5 separate regions of the Homo sapiens genome follow, and all the other regions are linked to region 2. The links come from fine-mapping of genetic effects on gene expression. A gene starts in region 2. Each other region holds a variant in brackets. All regions are shown on one strand. Distances are between the middles of the regions.

Evidence for each region. PIP is the estimated chance that this variant, and not a neighbour inherited with it, causes the effect.
Region 1: its variant is fine-mapped to the expression of HDAC1 in whole blood (TOPMed, PIP 0.93).
Region 3: its variant is fine-mapped to the expression of HDAC1 in whole blood (INTERVAL, PIP above 0.99).
Region 4: its variant is fine-mapped to the expression of HDAC1 in visceral fat (GTEx, PIP above 0.99).
Region 5: its variant is fine-mapped to the expression of HDAC1 in whole blood (TOPMed, PIP above 0.99).

The regions. Positions count from the first base shown.
Region 1 is chr1:32,079,238-32,084,366 of GRCh38, forward strand. All of the region lies in intron 5 of TMEM39B (transmembrane protein 39B), which reads left to right. Among named protein-coding and RNA genes, the nearest start is that of MIR5585, 5.1 kb to the right of the region's middle. The variant G/C (reference allele first, on the strand shown) is at 2,697.
Region 2 is chr1:32,289,253-32,294,252 of GRCh38, forward strand. It overlaps HDAC1 (histone deacetylase 1), which reads left to right and starts at 2,831. Exons shown (of 14, transcript NM_004964.3): 1 at 2,831-2,966. The coding sequence starts at 2,918. RefSeq lists a silencer at 2,545-2,954 and enhancers at 3,565-3,624, 3,696-4,270.
Region 3 is chr1:32,324,277-32,329,405 of GRCh38, forward strand. It overlaps HDAC1 (histone deacetylase 1), which reads left to right. Exons shown (of 14, transcript NM_004964.3): 4 at 203-277; 5 at 2,663-2,801; 6 at 3,260-3,401; 7 at 4,792-4,884. Among named protein-coding and RNA genes, the nearest start is that of MARCKSL1, 9.4 kb to the right of the region's middle. The variant C/T (reference allele first, on the strand shown) is at 3,068.
Region 4 is chr1:32,247,346-32,252,474 of GRCh38, forward strand. FAM167B (family with sequence similarity 167 member B) reads left to right here. Exons shown (of 2, transcript NM_032648.3): 1 at 1-337; 2 at 1,026-1,511. The coding sequence starts at 77. The coding sequence ends at 1,256. It overlaps LCK (LCK proto-oncogene, Src family tyrosine kinase), which reads left to right and starts at 3,920. Exons shown (of 13, transcript NM_005356.5): 1 at 3,920-4,026. RefSeq lists enhancers at 1,135-1,294, 2,523-2,732, 2,923-3,132, 3,183-3,272. The variant G/T (reference allele first, on the strand shown) is at 2,695.
Region 5 is chr1:32,312,949-32,318,077 of GRCh38, forward strand. HDAC1 (histone deacetylase 1) reads left to right here. Exons shown (of 14, transcript NM_004964.3): 3 at 3,717-3,834. Among named protein-coding and RNA genes, the nearest start is that of MARCKSL1, 21 kb to the right of the region's middle. The variant A/C (reference allele first, on the strand shown) is at 2,592.

The DNA.
Region 1 (5,129 bases), 210 kb before region 2:
GCAGTGGCACAATCTTGGCTCACTGCAAGCTCCACCTCCCGGGTTCACACCATTCTCCTGCCTCAGCCTCCTGAGTAGCTGGGACTACAGGCGCCTGCCACCACACCTAGCTAATTTTTTGTATTTTTAGTAGAGACAGGGTTTCACCGTGTTAGCCAGGATGGTCTCAATCTCCTGACCTCATGATCTGCCCGCCTCGGCCTCCCAAAGTGCTGGGATTACAGGCATGAGCCACCGCGCCTGGCCAACCTGTTCTATTTCTAACCTGGACCAGTTCATCCCCTCCTTAGGCAATTATGTGGTCCCCCACTCCCAGGAGTTCACCATATGGATGCTGAACTTCTATGCAGGCACCTCATCGGCATAGCACATTATAGCATAGAATTCCTCGGCTCAAGCAATCCTCCCACCTCAGCCTTCTGAGTAGCTGGGACTATGGGCATGCGCCATCATGACCTGCTGCCTCATTTTTTTAATGGCCTCGCAGTATTCTATGTTATAGAATTTTCACAATTTATTTGTCTTCTATTGGCAATTTTTTTTTTTTTCTGAGATGGAGTCTTGCTCTGTTGCCCAGGCTGGAGTGCAGTGGTGCAATCTTGGCTCACTGCAGCCTCCAACTCCCGGGTTCAAGCAGTTCTCCTGCCTCAGCCTCCCAAGTAGCTGAGACTACAGGCATGCTCCACCAAGCCCAGCTAATTTTGTATTTCTAGTAGAGATGGGGTTTCTCCATGTTGGTCAGGCTGGTCTCAGGTGATCCGCCTGCCTTGGCCTCCCAAAGTGCTGGGATTACAGACATGAGCCACCATGCTCGGCAATTTTTTGTATTCTTAGTAGAGATGGGGTTTCACCGTGTTAGCCAGGATGGTCTCGATCTCCTGACCTCGTGATCCGCCCACCTTGGTCTCCCAAAGTGCTGTGATTACAGGCGTGAGCCACCGTGCCTGGCCTACTGGCAAACTTTTAAGTTGTTTCTAGCTTTTCCTTATTCATAACAATGAATAATTGCATATGTGTCCAGTATCTCTGCACAGTAGATTCCCAGAAGAATTAACTACACCAAAAGATGGATTCATTTAGATTTTTCATAGTTATTAACAAATTGTCCTTCGAAAGGGTTGCACTGGTTAGAACTTAAGAGTTGCCTGTCGGACGCGGTGGCTCATGCCTGTAATCCCAGCACTTTGGGAGGCTGAGGCGGGTGGATCACGAGGTCAGGAGATTGAGACCATCCTGGCTAACACAGTGAAACCCCGTCTCTACTAAAAAAATACAAAAAACTAGCCGGGCATGGTGGATGGCACTTGCAGTCCCAGCTACTCGGGAGGCTGAGGCAGGAGAATGGTGTGAACCTGGGAGGCGGAGCTTGCAGTGAGCCAAGATCGCACCACTGCACCACTGCACTCCAGCCTGGGCAACAGAGTGAGACTCTGTCTCAAAAAAAAAAAAAAAAAAAAGAGTTGCCTTAATTTGACAGTTTATGGTTACTACCTGGTGAATCTTTTCTTCATGGATGCAGATAACACCCAATGTCATATTATGCTTTATTTTTCATTATTTAATTTAAAAATGTTTATTGACCAAATATAAACATATTGTAAAAAATTAAATCCAATAGTGCTGAAAAGCTTATAATGAAAACCATTGCTGGGCACGGTAGCTCATGCCTGTGATCTCAGTGACTTGGGAGGCTGAGGTGAGAAGATTGCTTTAGCTGGTGGATTTGAGGCCGAAGTGAGCCATGATCACACCAGTGCACTTCAGCGTGGACAACAGAGTGAGACCCTGTCTCTAAAAATAAATAAATAAATAAATAGAAAAACATTAGTCTCCAATCCCGCCTCCAGATTTTTAGTCCCACTCTTCATAGAAAAACATTAGTCTCCAATCCCGCCTCCAGATTTTTAGTCCCACTCTTCAATAGCAGTCTCTTTTACTTTCTGGGTTTTTTTATTTGTTTGTTTGTTTGTTTGTTTGTTTACAGACAGAGTCTGTAAACCTATTATCCAGTTCTAAAGTGGCACTGCACTCCAGCCTGAGTGACAAGACCCTGAGTCAGGGTCTGGCTCTGTTGCCCAGGCTGGAGTGCAGTGGTGCAATCTCGGCTCACTGCAACCTCTGCCTCCCAGGCTCAAGCCGTCCTCCCACTTCAGCCTTCTGAGTAGTTGGAACTACAGGCATCAGCCACTGTACCTAGCCTGCTTATTCTTTTTAAAAATTTATTTATTGGCCAAGCGTGGTGGCTCACGCTTGTAATCCCAGCACTTTGGAAGGCCAAGGTGAATGGATCACTTGAGGTCAGGAGTTCAAGACCAGCCTGGCCATCATGGTGAAACCCTTTCTCTACTAAAAATACAAAAATTAGCCAGGTGTGGTGGTGCACGCCTGTAGTCCCAGCTACTTGGGAGGCTGAGGCAGGAGAATTGCTTGAAACTGGGAGGTGGAGGTTGCAGCGAGCTGAGTTTGCACCACTGCACTCCAGCCTGGGCAATAGAGTGAGACTCTGTCTCAAAAAAAAGAAAATTATTGATTTATTTTAGAATTGAATAAGAGGTTTACATAGTTAAAATTCAGAAGGTTTAAAAGAGTATACCATGAAAAAGTCTCCCCTTGACTGCTGCCTCCCAGCCACCCAGTTTCCTTTCCAAGAGGTAATTATCAATGTTTTTGGTTTCTTGTATATCCTGGAAACAAAT[G/C]TTCTACGCATATACAAACATACCACATACACACATATGCAAGTATATTGATTCCCTGCAATGACAGATGATTTAGCTCACGATCCCATCCTTACTGTTCCCAGTAATTGATAGCTTTTAATATTTTTAAGTTTCTGTTGGTTATTTTCATCAATAGTATAAGTATCCCTATACTTTTTTTTTCCATCAACAATAGTATCTTGAATACTTTTTATGTAAGACAAGAATATTAGGCACCCTATCCAACCACTTTTCCTCCCCTCTTCCTCTTTTCACTTCCTGGCAGCTGTATTTTTACTTTTATATCGTCAAGCTTGACATTCACATTCTCCTATGTAACCACATTTAAGCCTTCCATTCTTTGTCTAAGCCTAATTCTGAAAATTAAAAACCAGTATGTGGCTTTGATATAATTATGTGTATGAAAATATCATTCACTCCAGGGCCCAGTAGTATGCATACATGACATTTCTTCTCTGTAGTTACAGAGTTACAGTCTTGGACCTCTTTATTTATTTATTTTTATTTTTATTTTTTTTGAGATGGAGTCTCTCTCTGTCACCCAGGCTGGAGTGCAGTGTCACAATCTCAGCTCACTGCAACCTCCGCCTCCCAGGTTCAAGCAGTTCTCCTGCCTCAACCTCCCGAGTAGCTGGGATTACAGGTGTGCACCACCACGCCCAGCTAATTTTTTGTATTTTTAGTAGAGATGGGGTTTCGCCATGTTTGCCAGGCTGGTCTCGAACTCCCAACCTCAAGTGATCCATTCATCTTGGCCTCCCAAAGTGCTGGGATTACAGGCATGAACCACCAAGCCCAGCCAGGAACTTTTTTTGTTTTTTGTTTTTTGTTTTTTTTTGAGACGGAGTCTCGCTCTGTCGCCCAGGCTGTAGTGCAGTGGCACGATCTCAACTCACTGCAAGCTCTGCCTCCTGGGTTCACGCCATTCTCCAGCCTCAGCCTCCCGAGTAGCTGGGACTACAGGCACCCGCCACCACGCCTGGCTAGTTTTTTGTATGTTTAGTAGAGACGGGGTTTCACCGTGTTAGCCAGGATGGTCTCGATCTCCTGACCTCGTGATCCACCCGCCTCAGCCTCCCAAAGTGCTGGGATTACAAGCGTGAGCCACCGCGCCCAGCCTGGTTTTTTTTTTTTTTTTTTTTTTTTGAGACGGAGTTTTGCTCTTGTTGCCCAGCCTTGGTGTGCAATGGCGCCATCTCTGCTCACTGCAGCCTCCGCCTCCCAAGTTCAAGTGATTCTCCTCCCTCAGCTCCCGAGTAGCTGGGATTACAGGCATGCGCCACCATGCCCAGCTAATTTTGTATTTTCCGTAGAGATGGGGTTTCTCCATGTTGGTCAGGCTGGTCTCGAACTCCCGACCTCAGGTGATCCACCCACCTCAGCTTCCCAAAGTGCTGGGATTACAGGTGTGAGCTACCACGCCTGGCCGGCAGGAACATTTTTTTAAAGGACTTCTTTTTTTTTTTTTTTTTTTTTTTTTTTTTTGAGATGGAGATTCGCCGTTGTTGCCCAGGCTGGAGTGGAATAGTGCAATCTTGGCTCACTGCAACCTTCACTTCCCAGTTTCAAGCGATTTTCCTGCCTCAGCCTCCCGAGTAGCTGGGACTACACGCGCCCGCCACCACGCCTGGCTAATTTTTTGTATTTTTAGTAGAGACGGGGTTTCACCGTGTTAGTCAGGATGGTCTCGATCTCCTGACCTCGTGATCCGTCCATCTCAGCTTCCCAAAGTGCTGGGATTACAGGTGTGAGCCACCGTGCCCAGCCTTAAAGGACTTCTTTAAAGGACCTGTACTCCCAGCTACTCAGGAGGCTAAGGTATAAGAATCGCTTGAACCCAGGAGGCAGTGGTGCAATCTCAGTTTATTGCAACCTCTGCCTCACTGGCTCAAGCCATCCTCCCATCTCAGCCTCCCAAGTAGCTGGGACTACAGGTACAGGCTACCATGCCCAGCTAATGCCAGAGGTTACAGTGAGCTGAGATTGTTCCACTGCACTCCAGCGTGGGCAATAGAGCAAGACCCTGTTTCAGACACACAGACACACACACACACACACAAATGTTCCTAGTGTCAAGGTGAAATGATTTTTCTTACATTCTATCAGTTACTTAAAATCATAGCACATTTTAGTTTGCTTCATGTTTACACCATAGCTTTCTTATATGGCTTTTTATTTTTCTTGGACTTTCTAATTGCCTTTCTTTTTTCTTATTGACAAAAGAATGATGAGCCTTCATCATATCCTCAAGTTTATCCAGCCTCTCAGTCATACTGCCTGTTGCCTGGAGTCCATTTCCTTCTCCCTGCTTCCCCCTACAAAGGCATCCCTCCTGGAGCCCTTCCTCCTCCTGCTGCAGTCTGGAGTGTTTGCTCTTTAGGTCTGCTGTACAGCTCTCAGCCTGGGACTTCC
Region 2 (5,000 bases):
GAGAATGGCGTGAACTCGAGAGGTGGAGCTTGCAGTGAGCCAAGATCGCACCACTACACTCCAGCCTGGGCGACAGAGTGAGACTTCATCTCAAAAAAAAAAAAAATTATATATATATATATACATATATATATGCAAACAAAGAGCATCTGAGTCATAATAATGTAAATCTATCACCTGACTGACCTGCTGCCACACCTCATGATCTCATCTGATCCCCACACTCCTTCTCTTTGGGATACTGTGTACAGCCATAGCGTGGGTGAACTTTGTATTCCTATCCTCCCCATTTTTGTTATTTTATTTTATTTCTTATTTATTTGAGACAGAGTCTCACTCTGTCATCCAGACTGTAATGCAGTGGCCTGATCTCGGCTCACTGCAACCTCCACCTCCCGGTTTCAAGCGAATCTCCTGCCTCAGCCTCCTAAGTAGCTGGGACCTACAGGCACACACCACCACGCCCAGCTAATTTTTGCATTTTTAATAGAGACGGGGTTTCACCGTGCTGGGCAGGCTGGTCTCGAACTCCTGACCTCAGGTGATTTGCCCACCTCAGCCTTCCAAATTGTTAGGATTACAGGCATGAGTCACTGTGCCCGGCCTCCTCCCCATTTTATAACAAGGGAAATGGAGGCCCAGAATGGTTAAGTAAACCCACCCAGGGCTAGCTGAGAATTAGCAACAGAGAACTGGGAGTAGAATTTGTTCCCTGGCCCTTTGCTGTTTCTATTATAAGCCACCCAGTCTTAGATTTTCTGTTACCTTATAATTAATGACTCAAATGCAGTTTCTGAGTGAGAAACACAAGTCCCAAACACTCTTTAAAGAGGCATAAAGATGTATCTTGTTGTTTTCTTTTGTTTGAGACAAGGCCTGGCTCTATTGCCCAGGCTGGAGTGTGGTGACATGATCTTGGCTCACTGCAACATCTGTCTCCTGGGCTCAAGCCATCATCCCACCTCAGCCTCCTGAGTAGCTGGAACTACAGGAGCGCGCCCCCACACCTGGGTAATTTTTCTATTTTTTGTAGAGATGGGGTTTTGCCATGTTGCCCAGGCTGGTCTCGAACTCCTGAGCTCAAGTGATCCACCCATCTTGGCCTCCCAAAGTGCTGGGATTACAGGCGTGAGCCACTGTGCCCAGCCTCTTGTTGACTGTAGGACCACAAGTTGGCGGCTAACTTAGAGCAATGTTTGGCACACAGGAAGCACTCATTAAATATTGACATTATTGTAGTTATTTTAATAGCCCAGCATTGCACTTTTAGGTCTTTCAGCTTTCAGTGATGATCAGTTGATAATTGATGATCTGGTGGAGTGGTTCTTAATGGTAGAGTTGGGGGCAATTTTACACTCCCTTACACCCCACTAATCTTCCCCCCAACCCAATGGTAAAGCTATTGCACAGTACTTGGCAATGTCTAGAGACAATTTTGGTTGTCACAGCCTGGGGGGAAGGTGCTACTGGCATCTAGTGGGTAGAGGCTAAGGATGCTGCTTAATTTTTTTTTTTTTTGAGACAAGAGTTTCACTCTAGTTGCCCAGGCACAGAACAGCTTCACAGAAGCTGTTAATGCACAGAATAGCTTCCTACAAAAAAGCATTACCTGGCCCAAAATGTCATTAGCTACCAGGCTGAGAAACCTGCCCTCCTAGGCCGGGCGCTGTGGCTCACGCCCGTAATCTCAGCATATTGGGAGGCCGAGGTGGGCGGATCCTGAGGTCAGGAGTTCGAGACCACCTGGACCAACACGGAGAAACCCAGTCTCTACCAAAAATACAAAATTAGCCGGGCATGGTGGCACATGCTTGTAATCCCAGCTACTCGGGAGGCTGAGGCAGGAGAACCGCTTGAACACAGAGGCAGAGATTGTGGTGAGCCGAGATCACACCATTGCACTCCAGCCTGGGCAACTAGAGCGAAACTCTTGTCTCAAAAAAAAAAAAAAAAAAAAAAACAGGGAAAGAAAAGAAAGGAAACCTGCCCTCCTATCATAGGATAATCCCATTTCCTCCTGTCTAAAGAGACGCCTACTTAGTCATCCTGGGTGACTGCATCAGGGAGGTAGATTTTGGAGTCTGAAAGGCTGGGTTCTGTCACTTTGTTACAGTGCCTCTGGTGCAAAGAAAGCATTTTAAAAACCCTGTACAATTAAAAAATTGAATTTAATTACTTTGTGTAACTTTGAATAATTCACAGAAGTCTGAACTTCTTTATCCTGTCCTGTAAAATGGAGGTAAAAAGCCCTTGGCCGAGAGCTGTTTTGAGGAAAAACTGAAATAACATTGGTAAAGTGTCGCACAGTACTTGGCACACAGCAGCCCCTCGACAAACATTAGCTTTCTTTCCCTTTCTTGTCGGTTTCTTCCTCTCCAAACCCGCGTGTTGCTTTTCTTTTTAATTATTTTTCTGTAGCCCTCCTTTGCGGCCACAAACTCGCTTTCTAACCCAGGTTCAGCCCTTTTATTGGCTGAGTGACCTTGTGCAAGTCACTTTTCCCCTGTAGGCCTCGGTTTATTCTCCGTAAAATCAGAAAGTTGGCCTCCGATCTCCAAGCACGCTTTTCACGACGAAGTGGGACTGTTAAGTTTACAGAGCTGCTTTCCTCCCCCGGGACTGATGGTACGGTCCCCGGGCGGCTCCCCACCCATCTGTCGCAGACCTTGGTACAGGCCCAGGGGGCCCTCGGCGGCCTCTCCGGGCTGCCCTTGCCCCCTGCCGAGTTCCGGGCCCGTGTCTGCGCAAGCTGATTGGCTGGAGCGGTGCCCGGGCTGCGCGGCTATAGGTGAGCCCAGGAGGGGACGGGCGGGGCGGGCCGGAGGCCCGCCCCCTCCCCCCTGGGTCGGACGCTGAGCGGAGCCGCGGGCGGGAGGGCGGACGGACCGACTGACGGTAGGGACGGGAGGCGAGCAAGATGGCGCAGACGCAGGGCACCCGGAGGAAAGTCTGTTACTACTACGACGGTGAGCACCGTCCTCGCGGCGGGGGCGGGGCCAGGCCGGGCCGGACCGGGAACCTGGAGGCTGAGGCTGGAGCGCCGATGGGAGGCTGCGGGAGGCTGAGGCGCTGGGGAGAGGCTCGGAGAGGAGGCTGCGAGGGGGAAGTCGAGGCTGAGGGAGGAGGCTGCGAGGAAGGGAGATCGAGGCTGAGACCAAGAGGGGATCGCGTGGGGGAAGCGTGAGGTAATCTTGATGGGAAGATTCTGAGGAAGTCTGATGTGGAGAGTTTGAGTGGGACTCCTAGAGGGGAGGGTGCGTCGGAGCGGGGAGGCTGAATCTGATGGAGACGGCTGCAAGGATACATTTTCTTGCCGAGAACCCAAAGCTCTTCCCTGCCCCGTCCCTTCCTCATCTTTTCTGGGGGAAGAGTCCTGCACGACTGGTTGCCCGCCTCCCCTCCCCCAGCCTCTGAGCGGGGCCTGCGGTTGCTACTGCGACGTGGGGCGCCAGGGGTTGCAAGGAGAAGGATGCAACCTGTTAAAACAGACTTCTCACTTAATCTCTCAAGCAGGTTACTGTGTTCGAGGAAGTGTTGAGGGGCTGGGGCCGTGGGGTTGATCGGGTCACCCTTCCCAGTGACCGAAGTTCTCTCCGTGTCAGAGCTCAGAGTGTTAGGGGAGCACAGAGAAGAGGCACCGAACTCCACCTGAGGAGTCAGCGAAGGAGGGGACATCTTAGTTAGGACCTGAAGAACAGGAGTTCTTAGCCAGGCACAGGGAAGGCAAAGATAACAGCAAGTTTCAGAGGCAAGAGAGAGGACAGGACCTTTGAAAAACAGGCATTTGGCCGGGCGTGGTGGCTCACGCCTGTAATCCCAGCACTTTGGGAGGCCGAGGCTGGTGGATCACCTGAGGTCAGGAGTTCGAGACCAGCCTGGCCAACATGGTGAAACCCCGTCTCTACTAAAAATACAAAATTAGCCGCGCATGGTGGTGTGCGCCTGTAATCCCAGCTACTCTGGAGCCTAAGGCAGGAGAATCCCTTAGAACCCGGGAGGCAGAGGTTGCAGTGAGCTGAGATCGTGCCACTGCACTCCAGCTTGGACAACAGAGCGAGGCTCTGTCTTAAAAAAAAAAAAAAAAAAAGATGTAAATAGGGACCGGACCATGAAGGGCTGGGCATGCTGTCCCAAGGAAGTTGGACTTTATTGAGGGCACTTGTGAGTGATTCAAGTTTTATGCAGGTTATTGACATCATCAGGTTTATACCTTAGAAATTAAAGTAATGGGGGCCAGGTGCAGTGGCTCACACCTCTCTAATCCCAGTACTTTGGGAGGCTGAGGCAGGCAGATCACTCGGGGCCAGGAGTTCAGGACCAGCCTGGCCAACACGGTGAAACCCCATCTCTACTAAAAATACAAAATTTAGGCTGGGCACGGTGGCTCACGCCTGTAATCCCGGCACTTTGGGAGGCTGAGGCGGGCGGATCATGAGGTCAGGAGTTCAAGACCAGCCTGACCAACATGGTGAAACCCTGTCTCTACTAAAAATACAAAAATTACCCGGGTGTGGTGGTGCGCACCTGTAATCCCAGCTACTCAGGAGGCTGAGGCAGGAGAGTCGCTTGAACCCAGGAGGCAGAGGTTGCAGTGAGCCAAGATTGCACCGCTGCACTCCAGCCTGGGCAACAGGGTGAGACTCCATCTCAAAAAAAAAAAAAAAAATTAGCGAGGTGTGGTGGCACATGCCTGTAGTCCCAGCTACTCAGGAGGCTGAGGTGCGAGAGTTGTTTGAACCTGGGAGGCAGAGGTTGCAGTGGGCTGAGATCTCACCACTGCACTCCGTCCTGGGCAACAGAGCGAGACTTCGTCTCAAAAAAAAAAAAAACAAAAAAATTCAGATTGTAGGGGTAAGGAAGAAGGCATGGATCCCAAGTTCCTGGTGTGGGCAGTATTTTTTATTTTTTGAGATGATGTCTAGCTCTGTCACCCAGGCTGGAGTGCAGTGGCTTGATCTCGGCTCACTGCAACTGCAACCTCCACCTCCCAGATTCAAGGG
Region 3 (5,129 bases), 35 kb after region 2:
CTGGCTCTAAAAAATAAAAAAATAATAATGGGCTAAAGCTCAAAGATGTTAAACAACTTGATGCAGTCATACAGCCAGGAAGTAGAGCCTGGACTAGAACCCACACCTCCTGAATTTAAATTCTGTGTTTTTTTCCATCAGCTCATAAATATGTAAACTAAAGGAAATTGTGGAAACTAACCTTTTGCTTATTTCTTTCAAGTCAACGTTGGTGAGGACTGTCCAGTATTCGATGGCCTGTTTGAGTTCTGTCAGTTGTCTACTGGTGGTTCTGTGGGTAAGGAATATTCATCTTCTCCCCAGGGGTAGACTGGGTTGTTCTAGTGAGGTCTGCCTTTTAGGCTGCTATCCTAGTTGGCTGATCTGAAACCATGTAGAATGGTCCTGTGGTTTTTACTGAAGTCTCTAAAATGGCTGGTGTAGTGTCTCACACCTGTAATCCCAGCACTTTGAGAGGCTGAGGAGGAGGATTGCTTGAGGTCAGGAGTTCAAGACCAGCCCAGGCAACATAGACCCTCCTGTCTATAAAAAAATAAAATAAGTAAAAACAATTAGCCGGGCATGGTGACTCGTGCCTGTAGTCCCAGCTACTCAGGAGGCTGAGGCTTAAACCCAGTAGGTTGAGGCTGCAGTGAGTCGTGGTCACACCACTACACTCTAGCCTGGGCAACAAAGCAAGACCCTGCCTCCAAAAAAAAAATTTAAAAAGCCTCTAAAATGTCCCTCTGGTTCAGTCCCAGCCCAGGTTCAATCTCTGACATGGTACTGACAGGTGTCCTTGACTGTCCTTTCCTACTAAGAGATCTTATGTACAGGCGTTCCCCGCAGACCTCCTGGGGTTGTTAAGATGCTGTACGTAAAAGCAATTTGTGAACTGCAAAGTGCTATAAAAATGGAAGTGTCATCATCTGTGAATCTGTCCTATGAAAAAGTATGGTAATTACCTTTAGAGGTCAGAAATACTCCTCATGTATCTCCCACTTCCATTTGCAACTTTTGGGTTATCTCCAGGATTACTCTAAACGCTTTCTTAACAAATATTTATTTTCCTGTGATCCCCCACCAATATAATCATTGTGTCCATCCCCGCTGCCCCACCAATATAATCACAGAAAACAAAGAAGTGCACAGAAAAAAACACAATCACCCACAGTCACAGGGTTGGTGGATAACCTCTGTTACCATGTTGGTGTTTGTATGGCCATTCTTTTGTGTGTGTGTTTATATCTGTGTCACACATATACAACATCTATATTTTACAAAAGTGGGTTATATACATATCACATATATATGGTTTTATGCCTGCATTTCCTACTTAACGAAATTGTCTGTAGTTTTCTACAGCTTGCTTTCTTGTGGCTCTATGATTATTCCATGTTGTGGATTTACTTGAGTTGATATAATCTGTCCCTCTTCTTGATAATTTGGATCAATCTATGCTTTTATTGCTGTTAAAATCAACACTGCAGCTGGACACGGTGGCACATGCCTGTAATCTCAGCACTTTGGGAGGCTGAAGAGGGTGGATCACCTGAGGTCAGGAGTTTGAGACCAGCCTGACCAACATGGTGAAACCCCATCTATACTAAAAAATACAAAAATTAGCCGGGCGTGGTGGTGTGTGCCTGTAATCCCAGCTACTTGGGAGGCTGAGGCAGGAGAATTGCTTGAACCTGGGAGGCGGAGGTTGCAGTGAGCCGAGATCGCGCCACTGCACTTCAGCCTGGGTGACAGAGTGAGACTCCATCTCAAAAAACAACAACAAATTAACACTGCCACAAATGCACTTGCACACATGGGTGTGTATTTATCTTTTACTTCTTCTGGGACCTATTCGTGCTAGTGCTTTTTGACCTAGTGTATCAGCACTATCTTTGGTAATTTTTCTTTTTCTTTTTTTTTGAAATAGAGTCTCCCTCCATCACCCAGGCTGGAGTGCAGTGGCGTGATCTTGGCTCACTGCAACCTCCGCCTCCTGGGTTCAAGCGATTCTCCTGCCTCAGCCTCCCCAGGTAGCTGGGACTACAAGTGTATGTCACCACGCCCAGCTAAATTTTTTCGTATTTTTAATAGAGATGAGGTTTAACCATGTTGGCCAGGCTGGTATCGAACTCTTGACCTCAGGTGATGTGCCCGCCTTGGCCTCCCAAACTTCTGGGATTACAGGTGTGAGCCACCGCGCATGGCCTATCTTTGGTATTTTTTCAAAGTTCCTTGACCATGAGCCATAGTAAGAAATAAATTTACACATGCAATCCAGGATACATATAACATATGCATGCATGCACACACTCACTCACTCTGAAGCCAGAGTTTTACAAAAGAGCAGTTACCCTTACTGTTACTCTGATATTTTTTTCTATGCTATTTCATTAAAAAAATATATATATATATACACACACACACTAATCATGATGTACTAAATCAATTTTAAGGCCTGCTAATGGGTTACTACCCTCAGTTTGGAAAATCGTTTTTTACGAGTAGACAGTATCATGTATTCCCTGCTGAAGTAGGGTGGGAGGGAGGGGACTGGTCTATGAATTGCACAATACAGCTGTTGAATAGGCAGGTCTTAACCTTTCACTAGGTTCCCTGGGCTTCTTGGAGGAAGGGGAGAGTGGCTTAGTAACAGGCTTATGTTCTCTTTTCTCATGCCCAGCAAGTGCTGTGAAACTTAATAAGCAGCAGACGGACATCGCTGTGAATTGGGCTGGGGGCCTGCACCATGCAAAGAAGTCCGAGGCATCTGGCTTCTGTTACGTCAATGATATCGTCTTGGCCATCCTGGAACTGCTAAAGTATGCCTGCCTGGCCTTGTCTCTTGGAAGAGCACCTTAGGCCAGGTTCCCATTTCCCTCTTCCCCTGGGCTTGCCTCCCTAGTTTGCTTTTCCTACCGATGTGCTGGCTAGGATGTGCTCGGTGAGTGTCTCTGGCCATCATCTCCTTGATGGGGTCTTGGTTTGATCTGAGCCACGGCATGATCAGGGGCAGATGCTGCTCAGATCCTGCCTCCAGAGTGTCCCTGTGTGGCTGGAGTTGACCCTGGCTGTAGAGTAGGAAGAT[C/T]GGACTTGGTCGGCTTGGTCAGGCCTCTGGAGACACCCGGCCGCTCTTCCACCTTCCTTCAGCCAGTTTCCACGTCTCTGGTGCTTAGAGATACCTGAGGGAGGCAGCCAGCCCGGTAAGCTGGGAGCTAGCGCCCTTGGCACGTCCCATCCCCAAAGAGCCCCCAGACCCCTGACCCCCTTCTGATCCTAGGTATCACCAGAGGGTGCTGTACATTGACATTGATATTCACCATGGTGACGGCGTGGAAGAGGCCTTCTACACCACGGACCGGGTCATGACTGTGTCCTTTCATAAGTATGGAGAGTACTTCCCAGGAACTGGGGACCTACGGGTGAGAACGCCCTTTAGGAGCCAACCGGCTTACCCTCAGCTGGCAGCTCTACTTCTCTCTCCTATCTCATGCCACTAAAAATTGCTTCTTGCCTCTTCTGCCAATCAGAATACCACATCCCAATCTGAAGCACTTGCCCTGATCTCTTTCCCTTCCTTATTCTGGAGGAAGGGAATGATGGGACATAAAGGGCCAGAGAAAGAAGAGGGGTCTCCTGACTCACTGTACTTTCCTCCTGGCCACAGCTGGGTTGCATCACACTATTCTTATGTCTCATAAGCCTTGAGTTTGGGGGTAGGAATTGGGACTCTGAAGGACATCTCAAGTGTTCTTCATGTTTTTGGGTCACTTTCCCCTTTAGCCTTTTGACTGAAAACTATGGACTGTCTCTCCAGAAAAGTACATGAGATTTTACATCTGATATAGAATAGTTAATAGACAAGTCCCCTTACTGAAGCCCATCCATGAACCTTAGGATAAGAATCCTTGGAAGCTACTTCGTTGAACTGTTCCATCTGCTTCTATTAGCATGAATGTGGTGAAATCAGCTGCTTTGCCATGCCTGGTAGCCCTTGGGTAAAAAAGTGGCACTAATTCAGTTGTTTGCCATGGCAAGCGTTAGAATAAATGAGCATTCACTTTTTTTTTTTTTTTGAGACAGTCTCTCTCTGTCACCCAGCCTGGAGTGCAGTGGCGTGATCTCGGTTCACTGCAGCCTCCGCCTCCCGCCTCCAGGCGATCTTGTGCCTCAGCCTCCGAATAGCCGGGATTTAGCTGGGATTATAAGTGCGTGCAACTATGCCCGGCTAATTTTTGTATTTTTAAAAGAGATGGGGTTTTGCCATGTTGGCCAGGCTGGTCTCGAACTCCTGACCTCAAGATTCACCCGCCTCAGCCTCCCAAAGTGCTGGACTTAAATAGGCGCACTCACTATTTTGAGGTTACTGGGAAGGACTTTCTTACCTCTCTCCTTCCCTCCACAACACCCTAGAGAGGGAGCATGGGGGAAGAGGAGTGAGCATTAGAGCTCTCTGGAGTGGAAAGGGTTGTCAAGGGTGGCTGTCACTTCTGTGACTCACCTGCCAGCCAGCTCTAACCCAATCCCAAGGTAGAAATCTTGTGCTATAGGGTAGGCTATTCAATCTCTGGTCCCATCAAGAGCTCTCAGTCTGGGGGTAGGCTTAATGCTATGTCCAGAGATGATTTGCCAGTGAAGCTAGATTTGCCAGTGAAGAGAATGGTACTAACAAGGTACCTCTGTTCTGTCCTGGCCCACATCATGGGCCTAGCTTGTCTCTCTTGAACCTCTTCCTTTATCCCTCCAGCCCCTATCCTTGACCTTCCTTCAAGCTTCATCCTTCAGTTTTACTTTAATGGCCTTTTTAATTAGGATATCGGGGCTGGCAAAGGCAAGTATTATGCTGTTAACTACCCGCTCCGAGACGGGATTGATGACGAGTCCTATGAGGCCATTTTCAAGCCGGTAAGTGGCTTTATCCACCCCTTGGGCTACAAACAGGGGATTGGTTGGCGGTGGAGGGGAGCAAAGCACCCCCACCATACCTCAGGAATCTCTCCTTACTAAAGCTGGTGGGGAGATAGAAGTGTTTGAACCCTGGATTGCTGTGTGGTCAGTTAGGGGAACAAACACCCATATTTATTGGTTCCTTCTATGGGTCAGGTCTTCTGCTGGATACAAAAATATCTAAGACATGATCTTTGCCCTCA
Region 4 (5,129 bases), 42 kb before region 2:
CTCCCTGGGCAATACTGCCAGCCTTTCCCTAATCTCAGAGCTGCAGCCCTGCCCTGTCACTCACCTCAAACCTGCCATGTCCCTGGGGCTACTGAAATTCCAGGCAGTGGGTGAAGAGGACGAGGAGGATGAGGAGGGGGAGAGCCTGGACTCTGTGAAGGCACTGACAGCCAAGCTGCAGCTGCAGACTCGGCGGCCCTCATATCTGGAGTGGACAGCCCAGGTCCAGAGCCAGGCCTGGCGCAGGGCCCAAGCCAAACCTGGACCAGGGGGACCTGGGGACATCTGTGGTTTCGACTCAATGGACTCCGCCCTTGAGTGGCTCCGACGGGAGCTGGTGAGTCTGGTGGGGTGGGCAGCTTTGCCCAGGGCCTTCAGGCTGGTCCTCCTTAGGGTCCAAGACCACAGGCATGGGGAAGGGATGAGAATGGACCCTGCCTCCAGCAACCGCCCGCTCCGGTGTCCTGGGCTGAGGAGCCGGGAATGGACTTGTCCAGTGTTGTATTCAGGGAGGCTTGCTGAAGAAGGATTCCATCCAATCTACTGACCTTGTGCTCCTGTTGCTTAGGGGACAGAGCACTGGTGTTGGGGGGTGTGGGGCACCATTATAAATAGGGAAATACACAGCCTCCCCTACTCTGGGACTTTCTATGGCCTAAAGATACAGCGAAGTGCAAAAGGAGGCACTGGCCATGCTGCAGGCAGATTCTGAAGAGGTGAAGTTTCAGTAGGTGGCTCCCAACTCAACATGTGCAAATATAAAGATACCCAGGCTCCAACACAGAGATTCTGCTTAGTTGATTTGGGATGGGGCCCAGGCAGTTGGATTTGCTTAATAATGACTCCTTAGCTGGGTTTGAGAACCACCAGGTGAAGCCAGATTGGGAGATAGGGAGAGATCAAGCTGAGGTGAGAGGGGGCTGGGGAGGACACAGTCAGTGCAAAGGCCCAGCGTTGCCAGGAAGGGAGAAACGGCGCGCGGCCGAGGGCCTGTCCAGTAGGCTCACGCCCCCTCTCGGCCGCAGCGGGAGATGCAGGCGCAGGACAGGCAGCTGGCAGGGCAGCTGCTGCGGCTGCGGGCCCAGCTGCACCGACTGAAGATGGACCAAGCCTGTCACCTGCACCAGGAGCTGCTGGATGAGGCCGAGCTGGAGCTGGAGCTGGAGCCCGGGGCCGGCCTAGCCCTGGCCCCGCTGCTGCGGCACCTGGGCCTCACGCGCATGAACATCAGCGCCCGGCGCTTCACCCTCTGCTGAGGAACACCTGTGCCCCCCGACTCCCCGCCCCCTCTCCCAATGCCGCTTCCCCTGCCTGCCTGGGAAGAGGAAAGGGAGGGGTGCCCCAGAGGCACCAGCTCCTGGCGGGGGAGGAGGAACATTCAGGTTTCTGAGAGCTGAATTCCAAGAGTGCAAAACCCCAGCATCCTGTTTCCTCTGCTGACCCAGCTGGGAGGGGGAGGAGGAGGAGCTCACACCCTCAAACTCCTCAATAAACGCTTTCTCTGGTTCCCATCAAGGTCTCTTGCAGTCGTTTATTCAGGCCCAAGGCCGCTATCTGAATGTCGCCTGTCACTGGGACCACCCTAGTTCACTGCAGGCCCATGGGAGGTGACTTAGGTAAATTGGGCTCCTGAAGAATGCAGAATCTGAGAGACATGGGTTCAAAGCCAGCTACCCCGTTTATTTCTTTTTGTTGTTGTTATTTCTTCTGCTTCTTTTTTTTTTTTTTTTTTTGAGGCAGAGTCTCACTCTGTCACCCAGGCTGGAATGCAGTAGCACAATCTCAGCTCACTGCAACCTCCGCCTCCGGGGATCAAGCGATTCTCCTGCCTCAGCCTCCCAAGTAGCTGGGATTACAGGCGGCCACCACCTCGCCTGGCTAATTTCCTTTCTTTTCTTTTCTTTTTTTTTCTTTTTTTTGAGATGGAATTTCACTCTTTCGCCCAGGCTGGAGTAGTGGCGCGATCTTGGCTCACTGCAACCTCCACCTTCTGATTTCAAGCGATTCTCCTGCCTCAGCCTCCCAAGTAGCTGGGATTACAGGTGGCCACCACCTCGCCTAGCTAATTTCCTTTCTTTTCTTTTCTTTTTTTTTTCTTTTTTTTGAGATGGAATTTCACTCTTTCGCCCAGGCTGGAGTAGTGGCGCGATCTTGGCTCACTGCAACCTCCACCTTCCGATTTCAAGCGATTCTCCTGCCTCAGCCTCCCGAGTAGCTGGGATTATAGGCACCCGCCACCATGCCCGGCTAATTTTTGTATTTTTAATAGAGACAGGGTTTCAGCATGTTGGCCAGGCTGGTCTCAAACTCCTGACCTCAAGTGATCCACCTGCCTGGGGTTTCCAAAGTGCTAGGATTACAGGCCTGAGCCACCGTTTATTTCTATTCGACCCTGAGGAGCTCCCTTAACCCCTGAGTCTGTTTCCTCACCTCCACAATGGAGATGCTGATTCTCACTCCACAGGCAGCAGATGTGCCTTACGGGAGATAGTGCACAGTGAGCGCTCAGTGAATATGAACTATTACTCACTCCCAGCGCGGCAGTCTTTCTACTCTGTGCTGAGACAGGGAGATGGACCGTGAAGTGTTCAGGCTTACATTGCAAGGGAGTCTGGGCCCTGCACCAGGCTTGGAGCTCCAACTCTAGGCTCTGTGTCACTGTGAAGGTTTTTCACTTTGTCTCTCTCAGCCTTT[G/T]TTTCTGTGTTACCCTCTTTGTCTGACTTTCCAACTCAGGCTTCCTCTTCCCCCCACCTATTTCCTGCCCCCACTTCTCTCTGCAGCTGAGGTGCACACAGCATCGCTTCCACCTCACAAGCCCCAACAATGCTCTGTGGGTTCCCCTCCCCCTACCAGCTCACTCAGGCAGTGACGCATGTGCACTTTCCTCCTGGTGGGGTCAAGGCCGAGTTCTTGGACCTGATGAGGCCACCTGGAGTTCCTCATATCACTGGTGACCTGGCCCTCAGCTAATGATGGGTGCCCCCTCAGCCTGGCCCCAGGGGAAATGGAAATTCTTTGCCTGCCTGCTGCTCGTGACAATCTTCTTGCCTCCTGCTTATAACAGAAAGTCCTGACAGTCTGTGGCCTGCACCTGGGGGCCTGAGCGGCCCTGTTTGCTCTGTCTTCCACCTGTTGCAGGAGATAGTGCCAAGCCCTCCACCTCTGCCAGGGGCTGTGGCCTTGCCTCTACCTGAATTCGAACTGTTGCCCTACTCTCCAACCATGATTAATGGGTGTTGTCCTGGCCTCTGACTACAGCAGGGGCCGTTACTATGCCCTCTTGAAGACATGAGGTTGTCCTGTCTGCCTCCTGAAACAGGCTGTTTTCCAGCATTCTGTCTGTAAGAGGGATGGTAGCCTGCCATTCACCTACCCTTGACTATAATAAAGCTACTGTTCCATGCCCTGAGATGACATGGGAATTGTTCTCTCGGCCTGACCTGACTGTAACATGCATGGTCTGCTCACCAGCTATTTAACAGGGATATTGTCCTCTCCTCTGACTCTGAACGATGCTACCTTTGCTGCCAGACAGAAACAAAAGGGTCTCTCAGCTGCAACGGTGGTGCTGAGGTGCTGTTTGCCTCTCACCATAAGCTGAGTGTGTGTCCGCTTGCCCCCTGCTCACTGGGCCCAAAGGCTGCCCTTGAATCTCTTGCCCAGATGCACCCTGGAGGGCAGAAGGGAGGGTCTATCAGACATCCTCCCCTCAACTTTAAACCTCCCAGTGTCACCCTGGGACAGTAGGGGAAGATGGACCTGGTCTGGAGATGTAGGGGACCCCCAGGGGCTGAGAGGCAGGGGTCTATGGTGGCAGGAAGCTTGGCGTGCTAGAGGGTTGTGGTTGGGCTGCTGGGGCCCGGTTGGCTGCGGAGCCCTCCGGAGGAGGCAGGAAGTCAGGGTGGGACGTGGGCGCGGGGAGACAGGTGGTGGCTACGACGGCGAAGGGAGCTGAGACTGTCCAGGCAGCCAGGTTAGGCCAGGAGGACCATGTGAATGGGGCCAGAGGGCTCCCGGGCTGGGCAGGTAAGGAGCGCTGGTATTGGGGGCGCAGGCGCCGGGGTGAGAGGCCTGATAGCAGACGGCTGCAGCTGTGCGGGCCCAGGCTCCCTAGGGATGCAGCAGCCCTTTGTGGCTGGGGAGAGAAGATCCTCGCTCAAGGTCAGGTGGGAGGCAGGCAGTGTAGCTGGGTCGCCTCTTTCCTGCGAAGCTGGTGTCGCTTGCCTCTGTCGTGCTGTCCACCAGTGGCCCCACCTGACTGGGAGCGTGTTTCCTGGACACCAGGCACATGGACAGTCAGGTGTTAAAAAGGCTTCCAGAAACCACCAAGCCCAGTCCCTCAGGCCATGAGGATGAGGCTCCTGAGGCCCAGAGAGAACAAGGCACTCACTGCCCACGGTTTCTCAGCAAGGCAGTGGCAGGGCTGAGAGTGATGGCTGAGGCTGTGGCCACCCCGCCTGGAGCAGGGTGATGGACAGGCTGGACTCAGAGGACCCAGGAATCCTTCTGGTTTCTGGGGCAGACCCCAGTGACAAGAATCTCCTGAGAAAGAGAGAGAGAGAGAGAGAGAGAGAGAGAGAGAGAGAGAGAGACAGAGATCACCCAAGGCATCCAGATGGACATGCGAGGAGTGATTTTAGCCTCAGCGATCGAGGGAAGAATCTCCTGATGGGCGTGAACTGATATGTGTGGGGGTGTCCATCATCTGGGATGGAGCTCCAGGGTGGATGGACATATCTGATCTGAGTATGGGAAGTTGGAAGTGAAAGAGAATGATGGGAGAAAGGAAGAGGAAGTACTATTTTTATCCCAGACAGGGGTGCAGTTGGTCCTGGGTGAGGAAGCGCTGAACTTCCATCTGGAAAGTCACCATTCCTGCCCCTGCCAAGCGTCACAGCAGGATGTCCTCCCCTCGCCCCTGGCTCCCTCCCGCTTCAGCCCTGCCTGTGTAGGGCCAGTTGGTTTTGCTGATTCCTGCTTCAAACCCCAGGGAGGTGGAGAGAGACTGGGGAGGCATAGTTGCTACCTGCTCACCTCCTCACTTTTTAACTCTGAGCCTTAATTTTTTTGGGAAGTCCTCACTCAGCCAGATTTCCAGGTTTCCCCTGCTTCGTTGGAGTTTTTCTTGA
Region 5 (5,129 bases), 24 kb after region 2:
TATAGGCGTGAGCCACCGCACCTGGCCATGAACTTTAAAAGGTGTTTTTTTGTTTTGTTTTGTTTTTCAGAGATGGGGTCTTAGGAATCTGAACACATTCTGGCCTGGAGAGATTGCCCAATAACTTATTTTATTTTATTTATTTATTTATTTATTTATTTATTTGAGATGGAGTCTCGCTTTGTTGCCCAGGCTGGAACGCAGTGGCATGATCTCAGCTCAATGCAGCCTCTGCCTCCGAGTTCAAGCAATTCTCCTGCCTCAGCCTCCTGAGTAGCTGGGATTCCAGGCACCTGCCATGACGCCCGGCTAATTTTTGTATTTTTATTGGAGATGGGGTTTCGCTGTGTTGGCCAGGGTGGTCTTGAACTCCTGGCCTCAGGTGAGCCACCCACCTCGGCCTCCCAAAGTGCTGGGATTACAGGTGTGAGCCACTGCGCCTGGCCCCGATAATTATTTTAAAAAAGAGAAAAAGACAGGGTCTCACTATGTTGTCCAGGCTAGCCTTGAAGTCCTAGGCTCAAGCGATCCTCCAGGGCTTAGATCTTTAAAAGGTTGTTGTAAGAATCATATGAGATAGCGTTTAAAGTGCCTGAAAGAGTGACTGTCACAGAGGAAACAATAAATGTTGGCTGTGTATTGAAAATGCTTTATAAACTGCAGAAAATATGGCAGGTTCTCAAATAACATCACTTCGCTCAGCATCATTTAGTTATAACGTTGAGGAGAAAAATAACTGATTCCTGGCATGGCCACTATCTGTATGGTGTTTGCATATTCTCCCCATGTCTGTGTAGGTTTTCTCCGGGTACTCCATTTTTCTCCCACATCCCAAAGATGTGCATGTGAGGTGAGTTGGCATGTTTCCATGGTCCTAGTCTGAGCAAGTGTGGATATGGGTGTGAGTGCACCCTGTGATGGAATGGCGTCCTGTCCAAGGTTGGTTCCTTGTGTTGAGCTGCGGGACAGGCTCTGGCCACCCTTGGAAATGAATGATTGAATTCAAATTATTGTCAAGTAAAAATTCATAAAGTAGACAATAATCATACAGATGCACAACAATAAAAGATGTGATACAGAAACACTCAGCGAGCCTGCCATATTTGTTATTGTTCGTTTTTGAACTGCATGATGGTAGAAGGTTCTCCTTGCAATTTTAACTTTGCATACATTTATTATTTGATTTAACCCACCACCACAACAACCGCCATCACTCACTGATTCACCAAAAATTGGGTAAATAATAATGTATATATTTTTTGAGACGGGGTCTTGCTCTGTTGCCCAGACTGTAGTGCAGTGGCAAGATCACAGCTCACTGCAGCCTGGACTTCCCTGGGCTCAGGTGATCCTCCCACCTTAGCCTCTTGAGTAGTTAGGACTATAGGCAAGTGCCACCACAGCCAGCTAATTTTTTATATTTTTGTAGAGACAGGGTTTCACCACGTTGCCCAGGCTGGTCTCAAACTCCTGGGTTCAAGTGATCCACCTGCCTCAGCCTCCCGAAGTACTGGGATTTTAGGCATGAGCCACTGCACCCAGCCCAATAATGATCTTCCTTATTTTTATAAATATTTCTTAAATATAGAGATATTTCGCCGGGCAAGGTGGCTCATGCCTGTAATCCCAGCACTTTGGGAGGCCGAGGCGGGTGGATCACGAGGTCAGGAGATCGAGACCATCCTGGCTAACATGGTGAAACCCCATCTCTACTAAATGTACAAAAAATTAGCCAGGTGTGATGGCGGGCGCCTGTAGTCCCAGCTACTTGGGAGGCTGAGGCAGGAGAATGGTGTGAACCTGGGAGACAGAGCTTGCAGTGAGCCGAGATCGCGCCACTGCACTCCAGCCTGGGCGACAGAGCGAGACTCCGTCTCAAAAAAAAAAAAAAAAAAGGGATATTTCACATTTATTTCAGTATTTGATGTTTGAAGTGTTTTGGGTCTTTATTTAGAATTTTAGTGATGTTTTTGTGACAGAAATATGCTGTAGGAGCTTAAGTTCTTGTTTATATCAATTAGCCTATGGTAAAATTGGTTTCTTTATACATTGTTTTGCCTATAGTCACAATTTCCAAGAACCTGTGGATGACATTAAGTGAGGACTTTTGTTGTATTGGTAATTAGAGAGGCAGAGGGTCATGTTTGAAGAAGACCTACCTTTAAGGGATGGGAGGAAAAGGAAATAATTTTAAAAAGGGAAGGAGGAGTCAGAATGTTGGGATAACCAGGAAATTAGCTTGTCAAGGAAGTGTTAGTGGGGAGGATGTGATCAAAATTGTTGATGTGATGACTTATAAAGGATTTCCCATCTGTTTCAGTTTTCATTAGATACCCTTTTTTCGTGAACTCTTGGAGCCATTTTGTCCATAATTTTATAATACGTATATATACATATATATTTTTTTTAATTTATTTTTTTGAGAGGAAGTTTCACTCTTGTTGCCCAGGATGGAGTGCAGTGGCACAATCTCAGCTCACTGCAACCTCCACCTCCCAGGTTCAAGCGATTCTCCTGTCTCAGCCTCCTGAGTAGTTGGGATTACAGGTGCATGCCACCACGTCCAGCTAATTTTTGTATTTTTAGTAGAG[A/C]CCAGATTTCATCATATTGGTCAGGATGGTCTCGAACTTCTAACCTCAGGTGATCCACCCGCCTCAGCCTCCCAAAGTGCTGGGATTACAGGCGTGAGCCACTGCACTCGGCCAGTTTTATATAATAATAAGTAATAATTTTGTAGGCCGGGCGCAGTGGCTCATGCCTGTAATCCAGCACTTTGGGAGGCCGAGGAGGGCGGATCACCTGAGGTCAGGAGTTCGAGACCATCCTGACCAACATGGTAAAACCCCATCTCTACTAAAAATACAAAAATTAGCCAGCGTCGTGGTGGGCGCCTGTAATCCCAACTACTCGGGAGGCTGAGGCAGGAGAATCGCTTGAACCCAGGAGGCGAAGGTTGCAGTGAGTCGAGATCATGCCATTGCACTCCAGCCTGGGTGACAGAGTGAGACTCCGCCTCAAAACAAACAAACAAACAAAAAAAAACGAAAAAAAAGGTCGGGCTTGGTGGCTCATGCCTGTAATCTCAGCACTTTGGAAGGCCGAGGCGGGCGGATCACGAGGTCAGGAGATCAAGACCATCCTAGCTAACACGGTGAAACCCTGTCTCTACTAAAAATACAAAAAAAATTAGCCGGGCGTGGTGGTGGGCGTCTGTAGTCCCAGCTACTTGGAAGGCTGAGGCAGGAGAATGGCGTGAAGCCGGGAGGCGGAGCTTGCAGTGAGCCGAGATTGCGCCACTGCACTCTAGCCTGGGAGACAGAGCGAGACTCCGTCTCAAAAAAAAAAAGTAATAATTTTGTAAAGCACCTTACAGTTTACAAAGAGATTTAACAACCTCTTCCAATTCTCTCAACTTCCCTGTGTGGTCTATGTTGTCCCTGTTTAGTAAATGAGGAAATGGAGGTTCAAGAGACAGTAACTTGCCTAAGCAACAGAGCTTGAGCTGCTGTAGGTCTTCTGATACTCTGTCTCCTTTGATAATCTTGTTTGCCTAGTTAGATTGTAAATTTCTTGAAGCCTGAATCTAACCAGTTATTTCTTTTTATTCTTTATAGCACCTAGCTCCATGCTGCGCAGGAAATATAAATATTCAAACTAGATTGACTGGACTGGCCGTGGTCAAAAATAACTTGCCCTTTCTCCCTTCTGCCCTCTAGCGCCCTCACAAAGCCAATGCTGAGGAGATGACCAAGTACCACAGCGATGACTACATTAAATTCTTGCGCTCCATCCGTCCAGATAACATGTCGGAGTACAGCAAGCAGATGCAGAGATGTAAGTCCATTCTGTTCCCTCACACTCTGAAGCCGCCAGTTGCATCTCCCTTTCCACTGTAGAGGCCCATTCTGCCGTCCTCGCACCTCCCATTCAGTGGACACCTGATTTCCCCTACCTCCTAAAGGTGCCAGAGTGCTTTTTCCCCTCAAGTCGGATTTTTCATGTTTCCTGATTTGTAAACGATAGAGGTAGTACTTTTTCTGGTTATGTTCACAACACTGTCCCAAGAGTACTGTAATTATTGTAGTGGAAAAAGCACTGACCTGGGACGGGGAGACAATAGATACAGTAAAATTTAACTCTAACTCTCAGCTGAGTGGGCAAGTCACTTCCCCTCAGATTCTTCTTTTGTAAAGTGGGCTGGGCCACATGATCTCTGATTTCTGTCCAACTGTAACTGTTTTGACTTAGTGGGTATTAATTGAGAATTTAGAGGCCACTCAGGACAGATTCTAGATGGTGTAATCTTTGAGATGAGGTGATGCTGCCCCTGATCCCTTGGACTTGAACTTCAGAGCAGGTCCCATCTTGGAAGCCACGCTTAGTTTGTAGGAATCGTGGGAATTATTTTAGCTGTGAGGGGGAAAAAAAAAGTATTCAAATTTGGGACAAAACTATCATACCTGACTTCCCCCTTGTGTTATTTTAGAAATTATCTCTTAGCACCTAAGACTTCATATAGTATAACAGCACTGTCCAGAAGAAGTTTTGATTAACTTATGACAGCTTATATGGAAGTGTCAGAAAATATGCGGCACTTGTTTGTTGCTGCTGACCACAAGGTAGTCTTACTCCCAAGGAAGAAAGTTATTTATAACTATTATTACAACTAATAATAACTGTACAGTGGTATTGATGGCAGAACCACAGAGACCTTCCTTGAAGCATTAAGCTTCTTTGCTACCGACAACTCCAGGAGCTGCCAGCTGCTGTGAGTGAGGTGTTTGCTCTCTGAATTGCAGGGTCTTATTTCCCTCCAAGATGAGGCAAATTCATGCCTTTCCTGTAGATGGCTTTAGAGGTTTCCATAACCCATTTAGGCCAAGGATCAGGCTCTACTCTCAGCACAGTGGGCTCTCACTAGAGGAGCAACTTGCTATTAAAGTAAGAAAATAAGCTTTCATGTCTTAGTTTGAATCCTTGGTTTCCTAGCCCCTCTGGTGTTATTTCCCGCCCCTGCCACTTTTTTTTGAGACAGAGTTTCGCTCTTGTTGCCCAGGCTGGAGTGCAATGGGGCGATCTCTACTCACCACAACCTCCGTCTCCCGGCTTCAAGCGATTATCCTGCCTCA